Regions from separate parts of the Homo sapiens genome. Here region 2 is linked to region 1. Evidence: fine-mapped expression QTL. A gene starts in region 1. The other region holds a variant in brackets. All regions are shown on one strand. Distances are from middle to middle. Region 1 holds the start of SET (SET nuclear proto-oncogene). Region 2 holds the start of ZDHHC12 (zDHHC palmitoyltransferase 12).

Region 1 (8,051 bases):
CTCCTAAACAGAATAGAAAGCAGTAGCTGTATATCTTTTCCCGTCTTTGAGGTTTTTTTTTTTTTTTTTTTTTTTTTGAAACAGTCTCACTCTTGTCGCCCAGGCTGGAATGCAAAAGCGCACAATCTCGGCTCACTGCAACCTCCCCCTCCTGGGTTCAAGCGATTCTCCTGCCTCAGCCTCCCAAGTAGCGAGTAGCTGGGATTACAAGCGCGCGCCACCACGCCCAGCTAATTTTTTTTGTATTTTTAGTAGAGACGGGGTTTCAACCTGTTGGCCAAGCTGGTTTCGAACCCCTGACCTCAAGTGATCCACCCACCTCGGCCTCCCAAAGTGCTGGGATTACAGGTGCGCCACCGCACCCAGCCTGTCTTTGTTGCACGCAACCCAGCATGCTGGACTAAGTCTTCACCAAGCTTCCTCCATTCTAACAAACACTGTTTATCCTTTAACAATGCCCTGTCCAAAACATACCTTGTGGATGGTTGACAAATGTTGTTACCCAAAAATTTGGGATTTTGGCGATCAATTCTGACCTCTTCTGAAAAAATGGTTGGCGGAGTTTGTTATATTTCTGTTCTACTTTCAAAATCTCCTCACTGGCTTGTTCATTAAGTCTGAAGCAAATGAAAAGAGATGTTGACAATGATAGTATTTAACAAATTAAAAAATTGGTTGAGATTACAGAGTGTATTTACTTACTAGCTTGAGTCATGCAAAATAACCAAATTATAATAACCATTATCACCTAATTTAGACACTCAAAACTAAGATGGCAATTTTGTCTGATTTATCAATAAACACTGAGTAATAATGACTGTTAAGAGTGCCCAAACTCAACACTCTGGTAACGTGTGTATTTACTTCGCCCACTCCATTTCCAGTCCAATTTCAATTGTTTCCCTCAAGCGCGATTTCTAAATAAAGTGGCTAATCCATAACAAAGTTGTAAGGCAAGTTAGAGCAACCACTGATGCCACACTGCTAAACCATCAGAAGACCTACACTGCAATTCAGACAATTTTCAGTCTTTGAAAGCAAACCCAAACCTTGTAAGGTCAATGCACTTTCAAAAACTTCTGTACAATCACTTCACCAAAAAACACTGAATCTACATAAGTATTTCCAACCAAGTTAGAATCATTTCCCCTTTGACAGTGGATAGATTTGACCATAGCTTCGATAATTACCGGGCTATTAGACACATCTCAGAAAATTTCTCCGAAGTATATTAAGAAAAATGTTACCTGTCTATTTCATTTTGTACTTCATCAATGTGTTCAATCGCTTCTTGCTGTTCTTTTTCTGCAAAAAAGGAGCAAAAAACTTAATTCTAAGATAAATTTACCTAGTTTTCCAGATGTTAATACTATAATATTCCAAAAGCCATTAAAACAAAAACAAAAACGCCTAGTACAAAGGCAAGCGTTCCACATGTTCATGCTTGTAGCTGACTAATTTCTTTTTAATTAATTAAAAGACCATTTACAAGTCATGCTGTCTGCTGGTTTACTCAGAAATTGGTTTTCTATAGCGCCTTTTTAAAGAGTTTCACTACAACAGACCGATCATTAAGGTTTCTACTATGAAAGACACAGAATAACCTTATTCAGAAGTCTTCACGTTTATTATTTCACATTATACACTTGCAAGAGAACAGTAGCAGCTGCTAACTAGAATATGGAAACTAAACCCATGACAATGATACAAATTAGGCCACCACTACCACCTATCAAGGTAAAACCACCTTTCATAGAAAGTTGACGACTCTGCTATTACGATGAAGATACCAGGCACGCCTACAAAGACTGGAAAGTCACGGGGCACCATCCTACACCCTGGCCTTCGCCTTCTCAGAACATGAACCCCTCCAACCCAATTCAGGCGGGCAGACCTCAGATGCGGCCCCACACGACTTTGGAGCACTTACTGGGAGCAACTATGAGATCGGAAAGCAGTGAGGCACAGAAGGGAGAGGAAGAAAAGGGGGTGTGCTCTGGAATAGGTGCCCTTTTGTCCTGTAAAGACTACAAACCCCCTACAAAGCTAAGTGGGTGTGAAAGGGCCAGATCGCGCGGTTCATTTCCGGTAACCATCCCGGATTGGCAGCCCCCCTGCCGAGAGCCTCCTAGGCAGAGGCCAGCTTTCTTAGCCATTTCCAAGACCCCCGATACACTGGTCGCGGCGCCAGGTTTCTCCGCACGCTGGCGCGACGGGGCGGCCGCCCCACGTGGGGAGTGCGCCCGGGCTGGCCAGAGCATCCTCCCGGCCGGCCAAGGCCCAGCGCGCGGCCGCCCGCGTGTTCCCCGCGCCCCCACCCCACCCGAGCTCCAGGCAGAAGCCCCGCCGGGGCCAGCCTCTGGGCGGGGGTGCCGGGGGCGCCGCCGCGGGCCGGGCGCGAAGCGGAACCGCGCGGGAGGTCGGGCGCGGGGCCGCGTCCGGCCGCACCATGTGGCGGCGGCGGCGGCTGATGGGAGCGAGGCATCATGGCGGAGCACAATAAAGAGAGGCTTCTCGGGAGGGAGGGAGGGGGAGGAGAGCGAGGGAGGGGGGAGAGGAAGGGGGGGTCTCCTCCGCCCGCGCCGAGCAGGCCGCAGCGCCCCCGCCTCGCAGCGCGGCCGCCGCGGCGCGGGCCACCCAGGCCCCCAGCCCAGCCGCGCACAAAAAAGGGCGCCGAGTCCGCGGGCCCCCGCCCGGCCGCGCCGCGCCCCCCCGCCCGGCGCCCCCCGCGCGCGCCCCGGGCCCCGCCGGCGGCCTGCGGGCCGGGGCGGGCGGCGAAGATGGCGGCGCGGGCCGGCCCCCGGGCTCGCTGCTCTCACCTGAGGTCTCGTCGGCCCCGTCGTGGTTGGAGTTGAGCTCCTTTTTACTGACTTTGGCCGCCGGCGCCGACATGGTGCTGCTCCGCGGTCGGGGGGGGAGCGGGGAGGGGGAGAGAAGGGAAGGCGAAGGGGGCGGGCAAGCGGCTTCCCCTCACGCCACACGCGCGGGCGCCCGCTCGGTCCGGCCGCCTCCTCCCGGCGCTCGCTCGCTCTCCCTCCCCCTCGCTCGCTCGCGCGCGCTACCCTCGCGGCCTGACGCCGAGGGACGGGCTGGGGCGGCGTGCCGGGCCCCGGCCCGGGCTCCTGTTCGCGGAGGGGAGGCGGAGGCGGCGGCGGCGGGCGGCTCGGCTCCCTCACTCGCGCTCGGCGATCCAGCCAGCTCGCTGCTCGCTCTCCCGAGCCGCCTCCTCCTCCACCTCCTCCTACGGCGAGGGGCGGGCGCAGGGCGCAGGCGCGCCAGGCCCCGCGCGGATGCTCCGCCTCCGGCCGGGGAGGCTCGCGCCGCGGCGCCATTGGCCTGGGCGGCGGGATGAGGGGGCGGAGTCGCGGCGCGGAGACACAGGGCCCGGCGAGAGGTGGGAGGAAGGCGCGCGGCGACGCACGGCCGCCCCCCGCGCCGCGTCCCCTCCCCCGCTCTCCCCTCTCCGGCCCGACCCAGGACACTGGCGCGCGGCAGGCCGGTGGGCGGGGCGTCGCACGGAGGCGCGGGTGCCCCCGGCCGGCGCGTCACGTGGTGAGCGAGCGGCTTCCCTGCTCCGCGGGGCACCGGGAGCGGGGCGCCCACCACCCCGAAAGTGCAGGCCCGGCCTCGTATGGGGGCCCCGAATTCCGCCCGGCCTCTCGGCGCCTTCCACTTCGTGGAGAAAGCAGGGGGCACCCCATTCTGGATGCCAGATGGGGAACTGCCGATCGGACTCAAACTCGGGCTCGTGTGCGAAGCCCCAGGCTGTGTAATCCGCGCGCAGGGCCATTCCTGGGTTTTAGTCCAAGCCCTGCCCAGCAAGCTTGTACCCTTGAGCAAGTCACCCTTCCTCTCTGAACCCGTTTCTGTTATGAAATGATAAAGGTTACGACACTGAAGCCACATTAAACTCGAAGTCCTGTGAAGGCAGGGAGGTACCACATTAGTCCGCGGTGCCCAGCGCCCGCAAGAATCATACTGAGCGTTAAGTGCCAGTTTCAGCAGCGCATGGCACGGTTATCTCACCGAGGCCTCACAACAGCCCCAAGCGATAGGCGGTGTTCTGTTCATAGAGATGAAAGGGGCCAACAAGTTCTACTTGAGAGGCAAAGTTCTGAACCACTAAGGAGGGCCAAAGCATTTTGTTTAAATAATACTTTTCAAGTAATGCGGATGCCCCACATTCTGTCCCTCCAGCACCCCAAGACATGAACCATAAAAAGCCAGAAAAACCCTGATTAGTAGCATTTGTTTGTTTGTTTTGAGACGGGAGTCTTGCTCTGTCCCCCAGGCTGGAGTGCAGTGGCGCAATCTTGGCTCACTGCAAGCTCTGCCTCTCGGGTTCAAGCAATTCTCCTGCCTCGGCCTCCCGAGTAGCTGGGGCTACAGGCACGTGCCACCATGCCCGGCTAATTTTTGTATTTTTAGTAGAGATGGAGTTTCACCACCTTGGCCAGGCTGGTCTACTGACCTGGGGTGATCCACTCACCTCGTCCTCCCAAAGTGCTGGGATTACAGGCGGGAGCCACTGCGCCCGGCCAGTACCATTTGTTGATTTTAGTGATACGCTGGCCAATTTCAAATCCTGGCCATGCAATAGCTCACTCCTGTTATCCCAACACTTTGGGAGGCCAAGGCAGGAGGATCGCTTGGGCCCAGGAATTCCAGGCTTCAATGAGCCCCAATGCAGCCACTGCACTGAAGCCTGAGTGACAGAGCAAGACCCTATCTCTAAAACAAAAACAAAAAAATACCTGAAATCTCTCTTTGGACATTTTTAACCAGAACTTGGGGTTGGAATTCTGCCTTCCAGAACTCACACTTTACCATTGGCTCTTTTTTTTTTTTTTTTTTTTTGGTGGGGGAGGGGACCAAGTCTCATTCTGTCTTCCAGGCTGGAGTGCAGTGGTGCCATCTCAGCTCACTGCAACCTCCGCCTCCCGGGTTCAAGTGATTCTCCTGCCTCAGCATCCTGAGTTGCTAGGATTACAGATGTGAGTCACCACGCCCTGCTAATTTTTGTATTTTTTGGTAGAGACAGGTTTTCACCATGTTGGCCAGACTGGTCTCAAACTCCTGACCTCAGGTGATCCACCTGCCTCTGCCTCCCAAAGTGCTGAGATTACAGGCATGAGCCACTGAGCTCGGCCCACTATCAGCTCTTAAAGCTCAAGCAGCATCTTTCATGTTCAAGACAGTGCACGGTGAGTGTCTTAGCCTCCCGAGTATCTGGGATTACAGGCGCCCACTACCATGCCAAGCTAATTTTTGTATTTTTTAGTAGAGACGGGGTTTCACCATGTTGGCCAGGCTGGTCTCGAACTCCCGACCTCAGGTGATCTGCCCACCTCGGCCTCCCAAAGTGCTGGGACTACAGGCATGAGCCACCCACTGTGCCTAGCATAAACTAAACTTTGTTGCAAGTGACAGAACCAAGATTCTAAACCAAGTAGCAATTGACAAAGCCCTTACCTTAAAACAGTTTTTCTATTTTTATTGTTGTTATTATTATGAGACAGGGTCTCTCTCTGTCGCCCAGAACCATGGCTCACTGCAGCCTTGACCTCCTGGGCTCTGGGGATTCTTACACCTCAGCCTTCTGAGTAGCTGGGACCACAGGCAAGCACCACTGCCACCTTGCCTGGCTAATTTTGTTTTTATCTTTTGTAGAGAGGAGGTATCACCATGTTGCCCAGGCTGGTCTCAAACTCCTGAGCTCAAACCATCCTTCAGCCTCAGCCTTCCAGAGCTCTGGGATTACAAGAGTTAGCCATCGCACCCTGCCTCAGTTTTTTTAATGTGACCAACAGTCAGAAGTACTTTTGACATCATGACCTAGCACACACAAACCAAAACTTACCCTTACCAAGGGTGATGTGATTCTAATTTCCTATTTAAAATGCAGGTCACACCCCACCAAATTGATTTCACGACCCGCTCCTGGGCTGAGTCTGTCTGAGAACACTATGCCAAGGGCTGGCTGCTTCCATCCTCAAAGCCTGACCCATAGGGTCACTCCTGACCCACAATGTCTCCTAAGTGCCTTATCTGCCTGTTTCCCAAGCACCTGCAGGGGTCCCAGGGAACCCTGTAATGCCTTCTGATGGGGGAGTGGGCTTTCAGGTTCCCTTTCTGGCCTCCCAACCCTCCCTGCCACCTCCCTGCCCCTCTTTTCCTGCCCTTCCCCACACAGTGCTTCTCAAGATAAATATGAGCACACTAGGAAGTTGAAGAGAAAGAGAAAGCAAAAGGGCCAGGGGTGTGAGTAAACACAGGCGAGCCGGGGGCACACTGAGAGGTTATTCACCCACTCTTAGGACTCTGCTCTCTCCCCGTCTCCAACACCAGAAGCTCTGCATTCTCTCTTCTTGGCCTCTCCCCTCACTCAGAATTCCTCCCTTGCCTCTCTCCTCTCCTCCTGGCCCCTCTGGTTGTTTTTTTTTTTGTTGTTGTTGTTGTTGTTCTTGTCGCCCAGGCTGGAGTGCAATGGCACGAACTCGGCTCATTGCAACCTCCGCCTCCGGAGTTCAAGCAATTCTCCTGCCTTAGCCCCCCAAGTAGCTGGGATTACAGGCATGCATCGTCACGCCTGGCTAACTGTCTTTGGTAGAGATGGGGTTTAGCCATGTTGGCCAGGCTGGTCTTGAACTTCTGACCTCAGGTGATCTGCCCACCTCGGCCTCCCAAAGTGCTGGGATTACAGGCGTCAGCCACCGCGCCCGGCCCCCGGCTCCCTTTGAAGAGGACAGAACCCCACCGCCAGAAAGACTGGAACAGAGAGAGGCTGGCATTCCCCCACAGTGCTGCAGTGTCCCAAGCACAGACCAAAAAATCTCCAGAGCCTGGAACATCTCCCCCGCCACAGACACATACACATCTCTTTGAGCCTCCTGTTCTGATCTGTAAAATTGGGATGTCCACAGCATACGGCTGTGAGGATAGAGAAGTGCTTGGCACAGCTTCTGGCATGCCATCAGTGCCTACTAAGCAGCAGGAGCTGTTCTTTGGGTTTAGATGAACCCCCTCACACCTTTCCATCCCTTCCAGTCCTGTTAATGCTCCCAGGAAGCTCACTGGAAGGAAACTAGGAAGACTCACCCACATTTTGCTGCGCACAAATGCACTCTAGAGCACTGATGATGTGCTAGGCGCTGTCTAGTGCTCCCCTTAGATTTCAGACTCACAGCAAGCCTGGAGATCAGTACTGTGGATCCCATTTTATAGAAGAGAAAACAAGCACAAGTTGTTTTATGTGGCTCACCCAGCAAGGTAGGTTTCAAGCTGGGCAGGAGGTCTCTGCATCCCATGTGGAGGAAAAGGGACTGAGACCCAGTAAAAGTGCCAACAGGTCCACACTGAGCCCTGAGGTAGGACTCCTCCTCAGTGCTTCTTCCATAAGAGTTGCCTGCCCTCAGCCAATCAAAGCTTCCCGTTTCCTTGCAGGCCCTGGGCCTATCCACACCCAGCCCAGGAAGGCTCCACCACAACCCTCCCCTATGAGCCAGACCTAGTCACCAGAACAGTCAACTCTCTATCCAGCTCCAGCTACGTCTCCCAAAATGCAGCCCTCACCTCTAAGTTTAATGGGGGGAAGGGCAGGCATGAAACTGCTGGTTACAATGTAATGACAAGAGGGTGAGGCAGCATGACTCTGGGACTCCTAACTCCCAAGTGTTGGGGCTCACAGATTGCCCACAGGAAGTGACTTTCCAGCAGAGAGCTGGAGGTGGTGCACAGGTAAGGAGAGGAAAGGGCAAGTGGGTGTCTAGGCCCCGAGATCAGAGGGTAGAGTCCCAAGAGGTCAAGGTGAAGGGTACCACCTTGAGGGAGGCCTCCAGGTGGGGAGTCTCAGAAGTGTGAACCAGGAGAGGTCGGCGGGGACCGGGTTGGCGGGCCAGAGAAGTTTCTGAGCACCTGGAGGACGCGGGGAGGCAAGGGAGGGGTTTAAGCCGGGGAGTGGGCCACGTGATTGGCTATGCTCAGGCTGAAGGGGAGGAGGAGGAAGCTGGAAGCCAAGATGAGGAGGTGGCAGAGATTCAGGCCAGAGTTGT
Region 2 (11,843 bases), 36 kb before region 1:
GCCCTGCCCTAGGCTTTACCTTGGAAGCCTGAGAGGCGCCGGCTCTCTTGCTCCTCCATCGATGGACACTGCATTGCTTCTCATCGGACACTTGTGGAGCGCAGGGGCCTGGGGAGCAGCGCTAACCCTGGAGGCAGCCTTTGGGTGATGGCTTTTTCTTCCCTTTTCCTCCCGCGGGCCTGTTTTCAGGTGTTCCTAGCATTTCTGCCTCCAGGCAGGACGGCAGGGGTGAGCAGCTTTGGGAGAGACACCTGGCCTTTTTCTCCTGGAGCCTCTCCCTCCCGGCCCTGGGAAGTGGGCGCAGCCCTGTGTTCCCCCAGCTTGGCAGATGGGCTGCATGCGGCGCTCCCTTCCTTCCCACGCTCAGCGGCCCCGGCCAGACCCTGGCAGACTTCACACCTCATTGCTTTACCCCCTGGGGCCTGGGGAAATGTCTGTACTTTGGGAAGTCACAGAAATACATTTTTGTGCAAAATGGAAAACAGAGCGTCTTTTTTTGTGGAGGGGATTGCTAGCCTGGCTTCCAGGCTCTGGAGCAGGGCTTGAGCCACCCCTGGCAGGGGGGCTGCAGTGTAGGTAGTTCTGTGGTAGGGAGGGGTGCGTTTGGTGGGTTAAAGGGCTGCAGGCTGGGGACAGGTGGCAGGGGACTGAGCTGGAGTACCTGTTTCCTATGTGTTCTCTTCACATCCCTGTGCCCACTGAGGACACAGCTGGCAACCAGACCAACAGGGTGCCTGCCTAAGATGGCTCAGCCTGATGGGGGAGACAGATGGCAAATAGAAGATTACAACTCTGTGCCACCATCAGGGAGAAGGCAGCGGAGGAGGTGCCTCCTGCCAGTGGATGGGAGTGGGCAGGCGGATCAGGGAAGCTTGGAGTCCGCTGGGCCACAGTGCTTTGGGGAGAGGGGGAGGAGCCAGCACGATGTCCCCATGTGTCTGGGAGGCTTCTTACAAGAGGACAGAGTGGAGCCAAACCCAGGGAAAAGAAGGAGGTTGCCCAGGCCTGGCCCGAGGGGCTGAGGAAAAGTGCATCCTCAGCAGAGGGTCCCGCCAGGGTGGACAGAGAAGCAGCCCCATGTGGCCCTGGCAGCGTGAGGAACAAGGGTAGAGTGGGAGGGGACCAGGAAGTCGCTGGTGCCAAATTGTGAGGTGCCCAGACTCTAGCATGGCCCAGGGCCGTCCTGGCTGACACCTGTGGTCCCCGCACGTCTATCAACAGTGCCTTGTCATCCTTAAGAGCTGCCTGGTTGGAATAAGAAATGATATGGTGGGCTGGGTGCGGTGGCTCACGCCTGTAATCCCAGCACTTTGGGAGGCCGAGGTGGATCACGAGGTCAGGCGATCAAGACCATCCTGGCTAACATGGTGAAACCCCGTCTCTACTAAAAGATACAAAAAAATTAGCTGCGCTAGGCGGCCGGCACCGGTAGTCCTAGCTACTTGAGAGGCTGAGACAGGAGAATGGTGTGAACCCAGGAGGCAGAGCTTGCAGTGAGCACAGATGGTGCCACTGCACTCCAGCCTGGGTGACAGAGCGAGACTCCGTCTCAAAAAACAAAAAAGAAATGATACGGTCACACCCTTTATAGGCCACCGTGAGTGTGTGGATTTTACCCTTTATGTGAGGTTTTAAGCCTGGGCATCAGGACCCAATTAAGCATTTCTGGAAGCTGAGCACTGACTCCTCCCACAGCCTCTGTGAAGCCGAGGTCCCCTCTTCTCCACCCCCTGCAGGGCCTGGACCTGGCCTCTCTCTCCCCTGGCTGACAGCCCCCTGCCACTGGCCACCCACAGGACCTGGGCAGGAAGGGCATCAAGTGGTTTGCCTCAGAACCCTGGTGGGTCGTCTGTGCCTCGGAGGGAATGAGGGCAGTGCCTGCCAGCAGCAGCCAACACTGCTGAACCTTATTCTGTGTCCCAGGCCCCGGGCTAAGTGCTTCATGTACCTTCCGCTTCCTCAGAACCCTGGCAATAATCCATTTCACAGACAAGGACACTGAGGCTCAGAGAGGTGAAGTGACTTTACTTTTTATTTTTTTCAGACAAGGTCTCACTGTTGCCCAGGCTGAGTGCAATGGCACGATCACAGCTCATTGCAGCTTCGACCTCCTGGGCTCAAGCAATCCTTGCACCTCAGCCTCCCAAGTAGCTGGGACAACAAACGTGCACCTCCATGCACATCTAATTTTTGTTTTTTTGTAGAAATGGGGTCTCACTGTGTTGCCCAGGTTGGTCTCAAATTCCTGGGCTCAAGCAATCCTCCCACTCCAGCCACCCACAGTGTTGAGATTACAGGCATATGCCACCATACCTGGCCTGACATGACTTATTACCTCAAGGTTGCCACAGTAAAGGAGGGAAAACAAGATCCTCAGATGTGCCAGGTGCTCCTCCTCTAGCTCGCTGGCCTGATACTTGCCATTTCCTGTGTCAGGAACACTCTAGTTCCTGCTCATCCCATCACAGCACCTACTTATCTCATGGGGCTGAAATTGCCTTGTCTCGTCTCCCCCACTGGACTGTGAGCAACAAGCCACATCAAGGCTCTGCTGTAGCCCAGCACAAAACCTGGCACATGGAGGGCTCTCCTTTTAAAAACCTGTGGCCAGGCTGGGTACAGTGGCTCAGCCTGTAATCTCAGGACTTTGGGAGGCCAGGGTGGGCGGATCCCTTGAGGTCAGGAGTTTGAGACCATCCTGGCCAAAATGGTGAAACCCCGTCTCTACTAAAAATACAAAAATTAGCTGGGTGTGGTGGTGCACACCTGTAATCCCAGCTACTCGGGAGGCTGCGGCAGGAGAATCACTTGAACCCAGGAGGCAGAGGTCACAGTGAGCTGAGATCGTGCTATTGCAGTCCAGCCCAGGCAACAGAGCAAGACTCCATTGCAAAAACAAACGAACAAAAACAAAAACCTAGGTGACGGGATGAGCTGTGCAGCAAACCACAGTGGCACATGTTTACCTATGTAACAAACCTGCACATCCTACACATGTACCCCTGAACTTAAAATAAAAGTTGGAGAGAAAAAAAAAAAGAAACTAATTTTGCCGCTCAGCACCTTCAAACATGACCTACCTCTCCAAAATAGACTGATGTCTAAACCATAAAGCCATTTTACTGAGTCTCCCTAAGAAATGTGACCTCTGGCCGGGCACAGTGGTTCACACTTGTAATCCCAGCACTTTGGGAGGCCGAGGCAGGCGGATCACAAGGTAAGGAGTTCAAGGCCACCCTGGCCAACATGGTGAAATCCTGTGTCTACTAAGAATTTTTAAAAAATTAGCCAGGCGTGGTGGCACGTGCCTGTAATCCCAGCTACTTTGGAAGCTAAGGCAGGAGAATTGCTTGAACCCAGGAGGCGGAGGTTGCAGTGAGCCTCAGATCACACCAGGGAAACAGTACGAAACTCCCTCTCAAAAAAAAAAAAAAGTGCTGGGCACAGTGGCTCACGCCTGTAATCCCAGCACTCTGGGAGGCCAAGGCGGGCGGGTCATCTGAGGTCGGGAGTTTGAGCCCAGCCTGACCAACATGGAGAATCCCCATCTCTACTAAAAATACAAAATTCGCTGGGCATGGTGGCGGGTGCCTGTAATCCCAGCTACTTGGGAGGCTGAGGCAGGAGAATCGCTTGAACCTGGGAGGCAGAGGTTGCAGTGAGCCGAGAGCCCGCCATTGCATTCCAGCCTGGGCAACAAGAGCGAAACTCCGTCTCAAAAAAAAAAAAAAAAGTGTGGTGGGATGGGAACTTACAATTGTGATCCTTCCTCTGTCCATTTGAGATGAGTGTGTATCTCCTACAACTCAGAAGTGTCTTTTTCAAGGACCTGAAGGCCATTCTATTGAAATGTAATATCAGGAAGGACAGAGCCTCTGTCTCCCAGTCTCTGCAGGAGAACAGAGTCCTAACTTTCACCATTGCCAGCGAGCACGCGGAGCTGCCTAATCACATTTACCATGACCAACCCTTTGGAATTTTTCATTTCCCTTATTCTGCTGAAGCCCTCACCGTTTCCCTCCACTCCCTCATTCTCCCTTTAAGCCAGACATGGTGGAGCACGCCTGCAGTCCCAGCTACTCTGGAGGCTGAGGGGGAAGATTGCCTCAGGTCAGGAGTTTGAGGCCATAGCGAGACCCCATCTCAAGAAAGCAGAAAACCAAAACCACAAAAAACATCAGTCACCTCTGCACAAACAGAAGTTTCAGTTGGTTCACACTGGGCTCTCCGCCCTATCAGTAGTATATTGTTAATTAAAATCTGGCCTTACTATTTGAACTAGTGTTGGGATGTTTGATACTAGCACAGTGCCTAACCCACGGAAGCTTCAGAATTATGTGCTGAGTGGATAATGTGCTGGATGTCCCCACTGAGCACATCAGATCCTGCACCCAGTGCAGTAGTCAAGACTTAGCTGCAAATGACAGACACCCAACTCAAACATCTACTCAGGCTAGTCAAAGGTGGGAATTGGGGCCAGGCATGGTGGCTCACACCTGTAATCCCAGCACTTTGAGAGGCTGAGTTAGGCAGATCACTTGAAGTCAGGAATTCGAGACCAGCCTGGACAACATAGTGAAACCCTGTCTCTACTAAAAATACAAAAATTAGCTGGGCGTGGTGGCATGTGCCTGTAACCCCAGCTACTTGGGAGGCTGAGGCAGGAGAATCACTTGAACTTGGGAGGTGGAGGTTGCAGTGAGCCCAGATCGCGCCACTGCACTCCAGCCTAGGCAACAGAGTGAGGCTCTGTCTCAAAAAAAAAAAAAAAAAAAAGGTGGGCATTCATTGACTCTTGCAACCAGGGGATGCAGAGTCAGTATCAGCTTCAGGGACAGCCGGATCTAGAGGGCTCAGACAATGTTGTTCAGACCATCTCTTGCTCCCTCCTTTAGTGCTGCTTATCCATCTCTATGTGTCTTTATAAGTTGGTCTCATTTTCTCCAGCCACAGACAGGGTAAGCCCTCTCCGCCCAGCGTAAAGACGGCTCCCAGTTGCCTTATATCCCATTCCTTAGGCTTGAGATCCAAAAGAATGCTCCTTCCTCTCAGCATCTAGACAGTAATCTCATGGAAGGCCTGTGATTGGTTCTGCAGAGTCGAAAGCCCACAGCCTGCCGCTCGCCATCCTATGGGGTGAGGGGCAGTCCCTCCAATCACATGGGATGGGAAGTCGATTCCCCAACCAAAAAAAGGATGTTGAGCTGAGAAAAACAACAGATGTCAGAGGAGTATCCTGGAGGAGCTGGGATGGGGCCAATCAGAGGGAGGCGGAGGAGGATGCTGGTATCAGTGGGAGGTGCTGTGGAAAGGCGGGGCTGAGTGGAGAAGGCCCTGGGGACACAGGGAAGGAGGACAGCCTGCAGCCTCCGGTGAGGAAAGTCCGCCTGTAGGTGGTGGCTCACAGCAGGAGAGGCAAGACAGTCCCGTGCTAGACAAGGCGCTTCCATTATTTAATCCTCCCAAACACCTTAGGAGGAAGACACTATTGTAATCCCCCTTATAGAGACAGAAAACAGCTCAGAGGGGCTCAGTAACTCGCCCAGGGTCACACAGGTAGGAAGGGGCAGTGCTGGGATTTCTGACTCCCGCCTAAGTTGGATCACCCATAGTCAGAATGTGCACCACGTACCTCCACTTTTCTCTCGTCCGTTTGCAATATCTGAGAATACATAGCAAGGAGGTAAAGCTGTCACCACAGAGCAACCTTGGGCGAGCCTTGGCCCTCTCGAGACTTTAGTCATCACATCTTTGAAATGGGTACAATTTTGCCTCCCGGACTCACAGCAAGCCGCTGGATCTTCGAAGCGCCCAGGGAGCTACGCGCATGCGCGAGGCTGCGAGGGCGGGCACAGGGGAACGCGGGGGAGGGCACAGCGGAGCGCGGGGGAGGTGCGCGCGCGCTCCGGCGCTTTCAAAAGTTACCTGGCGGGTGGGGCTGGAGTTGAGGGAGTTACCAGCTGCGCGCGCGCCGGCCCCACCCTCAGCCTCTTCAGGCACCTGTTGGCTTGAGGGTCCATTCGGCCGCAGATGCCATCCAATAGGCAGCCTCCCTGACCCAGTCCGGCCCCGCCCAACGCCTAGATCCACCAGTCCCCGGGCGGCGGCGTTCCCCTCCCTCGGAGGGCCCGCCCCTCTGGGCGCTTCTTCCGGGTGGGGCCCCGGGCCGAGGCGATGGCGCCCTGGGCGCTCCTCAGCCCTGGGGTCCTGGTGCGGACCGG[G/C]CACACCGTGCTGACCTGGGGAATCACGCTGGTGCTCTTCCTGCACGATACCGGTGAGCCGGACCCCGAGCGACCCCGGACCCACCCGATCCCGCGTACTTCCCCAGACGTTCTGGTCACACTGGGTCTCCCGCCTAATCCCTGGAGATCCTGGGATTGGCCCGATCTCCACCAGCTCCTGAAGCCCTCTCCCCATCTATCATTCCAAGAGCCACCTGCTCTCTGTCTGATACCCCGTTGATCCCTAATTAATCCCAGCATCTTCCTGATCATTGCCAAATGCCCTGTCCATCCCAGGACCCAGCCGGTGCCCACCAGATCCAAGGACCGACTTGAGCCCCATGTCCCCTGATCCTGGGACCCACATGATCCTTCCCAGGAACTGACCCCAAATCTTCCTATCCATACGATTAGGAGGCTCAACTAGATGCAAAGATTGGCATTCTGCCCACACCCACACCCCCCACACCCCCATGGCCACTAGCTGCCCAAGTCCAGGCAAACCCTCAGGCCAGAGAACACTCCATGGGGTGCGGCCTGTCTCCCATCTTCCCACAGATTCACCCACCCACCCACCTCCATTTCCCTCATTCCTCTTAGTAGCCCCCTACCCAGCGCCTCACCTGCCACAGGCAGCCTCCCCCACTGTCCCCCACAGCAGACCCCAGCCCTCCTTCCATGGCGGTCCAGCCTCAGTTTCTGGACTGGGGCCCCTTCTGGCTTTCCTCCCAAGACAGACCTCCTCCACCACCTTCACCCTTTAGCCTAAAAACTTGCTCAGGTCTCCGTATCAGAAAACCCCCCTCAAAACCCACCCTTTCTTCTCTGCTCCCCCTTACAACCAAGGGACACAGGATTTGTCTACACTCTGCTGTCTGGTGGTCTCATGCCCCCTCACTCCTTGCCCTGCACCCTACCTCCCCAAAATCCTGTCACCTCCCTGGGCTGAAGCCTGCTGGACCCTTCCGTATGCCCCTCTGCAGCATCTGAGCCTGCCAGCTGCACCCTTCCCACTGTATCTCTCTCAGGCATTTCAGACCTAACCAGTCTCTCACCATTGCAGAGCCAGAGACGCTGGACCCCTCTTCCCTCTCTCCCACATCCAGTCAGGTCTGGCTCCCTTGACCCAGCAGCCCCCTGTCCATTCCTTCCTCCCTCACTTCCTGCCAGGCCTTTGTAGCGACTCTCTTCTTCCTCCTGGCCAGATTCTCTGCCCCCAGGCTTCCCCTGATCCATTTCTTTAGCAATGAGGTTTTCCAAAACAGATCTGGCTCTATAACCTTCCATGGTTCCCTCTGACCCTCCAGATAAAAGTGCAGATGAACTGCTGGCCACACACAGCCACTCATGGAACCAACATCTCCAGGCCTTTGCTCAGCCAGGAACACACTTCCCCACCTCCAACTGCACCCCAACCCCACCCACTCCTGTTCTACCCGGCCCAGCCTCACTGTGCTCTCCGGCCTCTCCAGAGCTGCGGCAATGGGAGGAGCAGGGGGAGCTGCTCCTGCCCCTCACCTTCCTGCTCCTGGTGCTGGGCTCCCTGCTGCTCTACCTCGCTGTGTCACTCATGGACCCTGGCTACGTGAATGTGCAGCCCCAGCCTCAGGTAACCAGGGGCCCCTACTCTCACCAACAGGGACCTAACAACCAGCACCAGTCTCCATGCCAGGCTCTGTGCTGCAGGCTCTTGTGGGAGCAGTTCAGTGACTCCTCTTGCCACCCCTAGAGCCCCATCTACAGTAGTGAGGAAACTGCTGGGCCCCAGAGAAGGAAGAGACTTGCAAACATACACAGCCGCCCTCAGTCCAGGGTGCTCCGCCATACCCCACACCTCCATTCTGCATGGGATGGGTCCCAAACTCCATACCCAGAGCTAAGCCGGCCCCTAGGGGAGCTGCCCGCCAATGCCATCTGTCTCCCAAGGGGACCCTGTCTTACACCCCACCCCTCATTCCAGGAGGAGCTCAAAGAGGAGCAGACAGCCATGGTTCCTCCAGCCATCCCTCTTCGGCGCTGCAGATACTGCCTGGTGCTGGTGAGTGATGCACGGACACCCGTGGGAGAGGTTGGGCCAAAGCTGAGACTCCTCGACCTCCTCCTGCCCCACTGCCTGGGCCTCGCCCCTCCTCCAAGAAGGCCTTCCAGAATCAGGCCCTGATTCCTTCCCTCAGTGGTGGGCCCACAGCAGGGCTGGCACTGAGCCTCCACTCTCCTCCATGCCCACAGCAGCCCCTGAGGGCTCGGCACTGCCGTGAGTGCCGCCGTTGCGTCCGCCGCTACGACCACCACTGCCCCTGGATGGAGAACTGTGTGGGAGAGCGCAACCACCCACTCTTTGTGGTCTACCTGGCGCTGCAGCTGGTGGTGCTTCTGTGGGGCCTGTACCTGGCATGGTGGGTGCTGCTGCCCGGGTGTAGAGGGAGGGTGGGATGAATGCTCCCACAGGGGTGGACAGAGCCAGGACTCCCAGGGACCCGGCATGGGGAGGGAAGGGCTCCCCTGCCCTCCCCCAGCACCAGGCCCCTGTCCCCTGCACCGCAGGTCAGGCCTCCGGTTCTTCCAGCCCTGGGGTCAGTGGTTGCGGTCCAGCGGGCTCCTGTTCGCCACCTTCCTGCTGCTGTCCCTCTTCTCGTTGGTGGCCAGCCTGCTCCTCGTCTCGCACCTCTACCTGGTGGCCAGCAACACCACCACCTGGGAATTCATCTCCTCACACCGCATCGCCTATCTCCGCCAGCGCCCCAGCAACCCCTTCGACCGAGGCCTGACCCGCAACCTGGCCCACTTCTTCTGTGGATGGCCCTCAGGGTCCTGGGAGACCCTCTGGGCTGAGGAGGAGGAAGAGGGCAGCAGCCCAGCTGTTTAGGGTTGCTGGAGGCCGGGCTACCGTCTTGTGCCTGAAAACCACGGGGCCTGTCCCCAGCTGGGGTGAGCGCTCAGAGGGCCTGGGGCCCTCACTCCTGCCCACGCCTCCCAGACCCCAGAACGGAGCTTCAAGTCAGACAGATCCCTGCCTTGGTGGGCAGTTCTGCCTTCCAAGGAAGAAGGGGAAGAAAAGGACCTGTGGGTGGCTCAGGCCCAAGCAGACCCCGGGCTCCACCCCAGCCCCGCCCAGGCTGCTGCCAGTGCACACTTTTACAAATTTAATATAAAGCAAGTCCAGTCTTAAAAAGACAAACCATATCACTCCTTGCTGCGGCACCCTTTCTGGGCCAGGTCTCGCTGGGAGGTAGAAGAGGGCGAGCTGGAGGGGGAAGGGACACACTTTGCCCAGTGACACTGAGCAAAGCCCACAACAGTGGCCCCATGGCTGCCACTTTGAATCCCAAGGGCTCAGAAGTACCCAGCAAGGCCTGGACCTCCAGGCAGGGCGCACGGGTGAACGAGCAGAGGCTCTAACAGTCTGTGGGGGAAGGGGACAGAGGTGCCAGGAGATGCCCTCAGGGTTCCAGGAATCGCTCTGACACAAAGTCGAAGTCCCGGAAGGCGGCCTGTTGGCGGGCAGTGAGGAGGCTGTGGGGTGCAGGTGGGGTCAGGGCAGGCGGCAGCCCTGTGAACTCGCCCTCAAAGTAGCGCAGGTCCGCAGGGCCACACAGGGTAGGCACGAAGGGGGGCTGGATGGTGCGGGCGAGCAGGGCTTGCCAGTTGGTGGTCTGAGGGCAAAGGAGAGGCGCCTGAGACGGCAGGAACAGCAGCTCCAGGAGTCACTCCATGCCACCTACCCTGCCAGGCACAGGGGACCACCGCCACCCCAGCCGCTCACCCTGAAGAATGGCTGGACCTTGATCTCCTCGGCATCCTGCTCACCTGCCCCGAGGCGCTTCTCCGGGCACTTCTGGAGGAGCTGGGCAATAGGACAGGCGCTCACTTAGGGCATTCAGCCCCAGGCACTGCCATCATCCACAGGCCCCAAGCACGCTGGCCCAGAGCGCTCTAAGGATGGGTGGCAGGGGGTCTGCTGTCCCACGGCAGAGGGCACATGGGCCTTGAGCGGCCATCCAGCCCAGCCCCAGACCCCGCAGTGCTTACCTTCTGAATGAACTCAAGCCCTTGCACCGACAGAAAGCCGGGGTAGGGGGCGTCCATGTTGACGATGCAGTCAAACACCTCTTCCTCTGTGTCCCCTGGGAACGGGCACTGTGGAGATGGGGGCTCAGCAGGATGCACGGGCCACCCCACCCCCACCCAGAGGCCCAGGAAACAGGCTCCAGCACTCACCTCACCCACCAGCATCTCGTAGAGCAGCACACCCAGCCCCCACCAGTCCACAGCCCGTGTGTATGCCTCCTGGGTCAGCACCTCGGGAGCCAGGAACTCCGGGGTGCCACAGAAGGTGCTAGTCCGGTCCCCGAAGCCGATCCCTGCAAACCAACAGGCACACCAATAGCTGCTTGGTGTGGCCTATTCACAATAACTTCAATAGCCAAGCCTTATGATGCCAGGGAGCTGAGCCTGTGCCAAGCCCTGCCCTGTACCCAAGGAAGTGGGAATGGTTATGACGCCATTTGACTGCATGCAGAGCCAAGCTCACAGGCTAAGGTCACAGAAGGCAGAACTCGGCTGGGTGCGGTGGCTCACACCTGTAATCCCAGCACTTTGGGAGGCCGAGGTGGGCAGATCATGAGGTCAGGAGTTCGAGACCAGCCTGGCCAACATGGTGAAACCCCGTCTCTACTAAAAATACAAAAAATAAGCTGGGTGTGGTGGCATGTGCCTGTAATCGCAGGTACTCGGGAGGCTGAGGCAGGAGAATCTCTTGAACCTTGGAGGCAGAGGTTGCAGTGAGCCGAGATTGCGCCATTGCACTCCAGCCTGGGCAACAGGGCAAGACTCCATCTCAAAAAAAAAAGAAGCCGGGCGCAGTGGCTCACGCCTGTAATCCCAGCACTTTGGGCGGCCAAGGTGGGTGGATCATGAGGTCAGGAGATCGAGACCATCCTCGCTAACACAGTGAAACCCCGTCTCTACTAAAAAAATACAAAAATTAGCCAGGTGTGGTGGTGCTCGCTTGTAGTCCCAGCTACTTGGGCTGCTGAGGCAAGAGAATCGCTTGAACCCAGTAGGTGGAGGCTGCAGTGAGCCGAGACTGCACCACTGCATTGCATCCTGGGCGGCACAGCAAGACTCCGTCTCAAAAAAAAAAACAAACCAAAAAAAAAACAGAAGGCAGAACTCAGTCTCCTCTCCCATCCCTGACCACAGGCTCTCCCTTGGGCCAGGTGCAGGCTGGGGCTACGAGCCTCTAGGACTAGGAAGAAAGGGCCAGTGTGCCCAGCTGTCCCCTGGAATGAGGTCTGGGGTGGTGGAACCAGGGCATCCGCAGGTGAGGAGATTTCCTGGGACATGCCATGTGCCCATCATCCTATTGGCCAGGGTGGGTAAACAAGGCTGGAGATATGGATCCCAATGGGCGGCCCCCACCTTCCTTGCAGAGTCCAAAGTCTGCGATCTTCAGGAATCCCTGGGCATCCAGCAGAAGGTTATCCAACTTCAGGTCCCTGAGGGCAAGGGTGCAGATCAAAGGGACTGAGTGGGGCTTAGACCCAGGGAACAGTAACGGCCCCTGGAGCAGCCCAGGCAGGCGGAGGCAGCATCTGTCCTTACCCACTCCACCCCCACCCC

The links. PIP is the estimated chance that this variant, and not a neighbour inherited with it, causes the effect.
Region 2: its variant is fine-mapped to the expression of SET in whole blood (TOPMed, PIP above 0.99).

What each region holds. Positions count from the first base shown.
Region 1 is chr9:128,684,424-128,692,474 of GRCh38, reverse strand. SET (SET nuclear proto-oncogene) reads right to left here and starts at 3,253. Exons shown (of 8, transcript NM_003011.4): 1 at 2,820-3,253; 2 at 1,248-1,305; 3 at 475-617. The coding sequence starts at 2,892. It also overlaps a transcript of DYNC2I2 not described here. RefSeq lists silencers at 2,384-2,503, 2,884-3,793 and enhancers at 4,080-4,956, 6,307-6,406, 6,447-6,536, 7,742-7,831.
Region 2 is chr9:128,718,425-128,730,267 of GRCh38, reverse strand. PKN3 (protein kinase N3) reads right to left here. Exons shown (of 22, transcript NM_013355.5): 18 at 11,643-11,719; 19 at 10,440-10,582; 20 at 10,251-10,358; 21 at 9,985-10,065; 22 at 9,352-9,874. The coding sequence ends at 9,662. ZDHHC12 (zDHHC palmitoyltransferase 12) reads left to right here and starts at 6,141. Exons shown (of 5, transcript NM_032799.5): 1 at 6,141-6,274; 2 at 7,694-7,830; 3 at 8,182-8,259; 4 at 8,451-8,617; 5 at 8,766-9,395. The coding sequence starts at 6,175. The coding sequence ends at 9,087. ZDHHC12-DT (ZDHHC12 divergent transcript) reads right to left here and starts at 5,806. Exons shown (of 2, transcript NR_046240.1): 1 at 5,633-5,806. ZER1 (zyg-11 related cell cycle regulator) reads left to right here. Exons shown (of 16, transcript NM_006336.4): 16 at 1-482. RefSeq lists enhancers at 1-700, 701-1,532 and a silencer at 5,773-6,252. The variant G/C (reference allele first, on the strand shown) is at 6,222.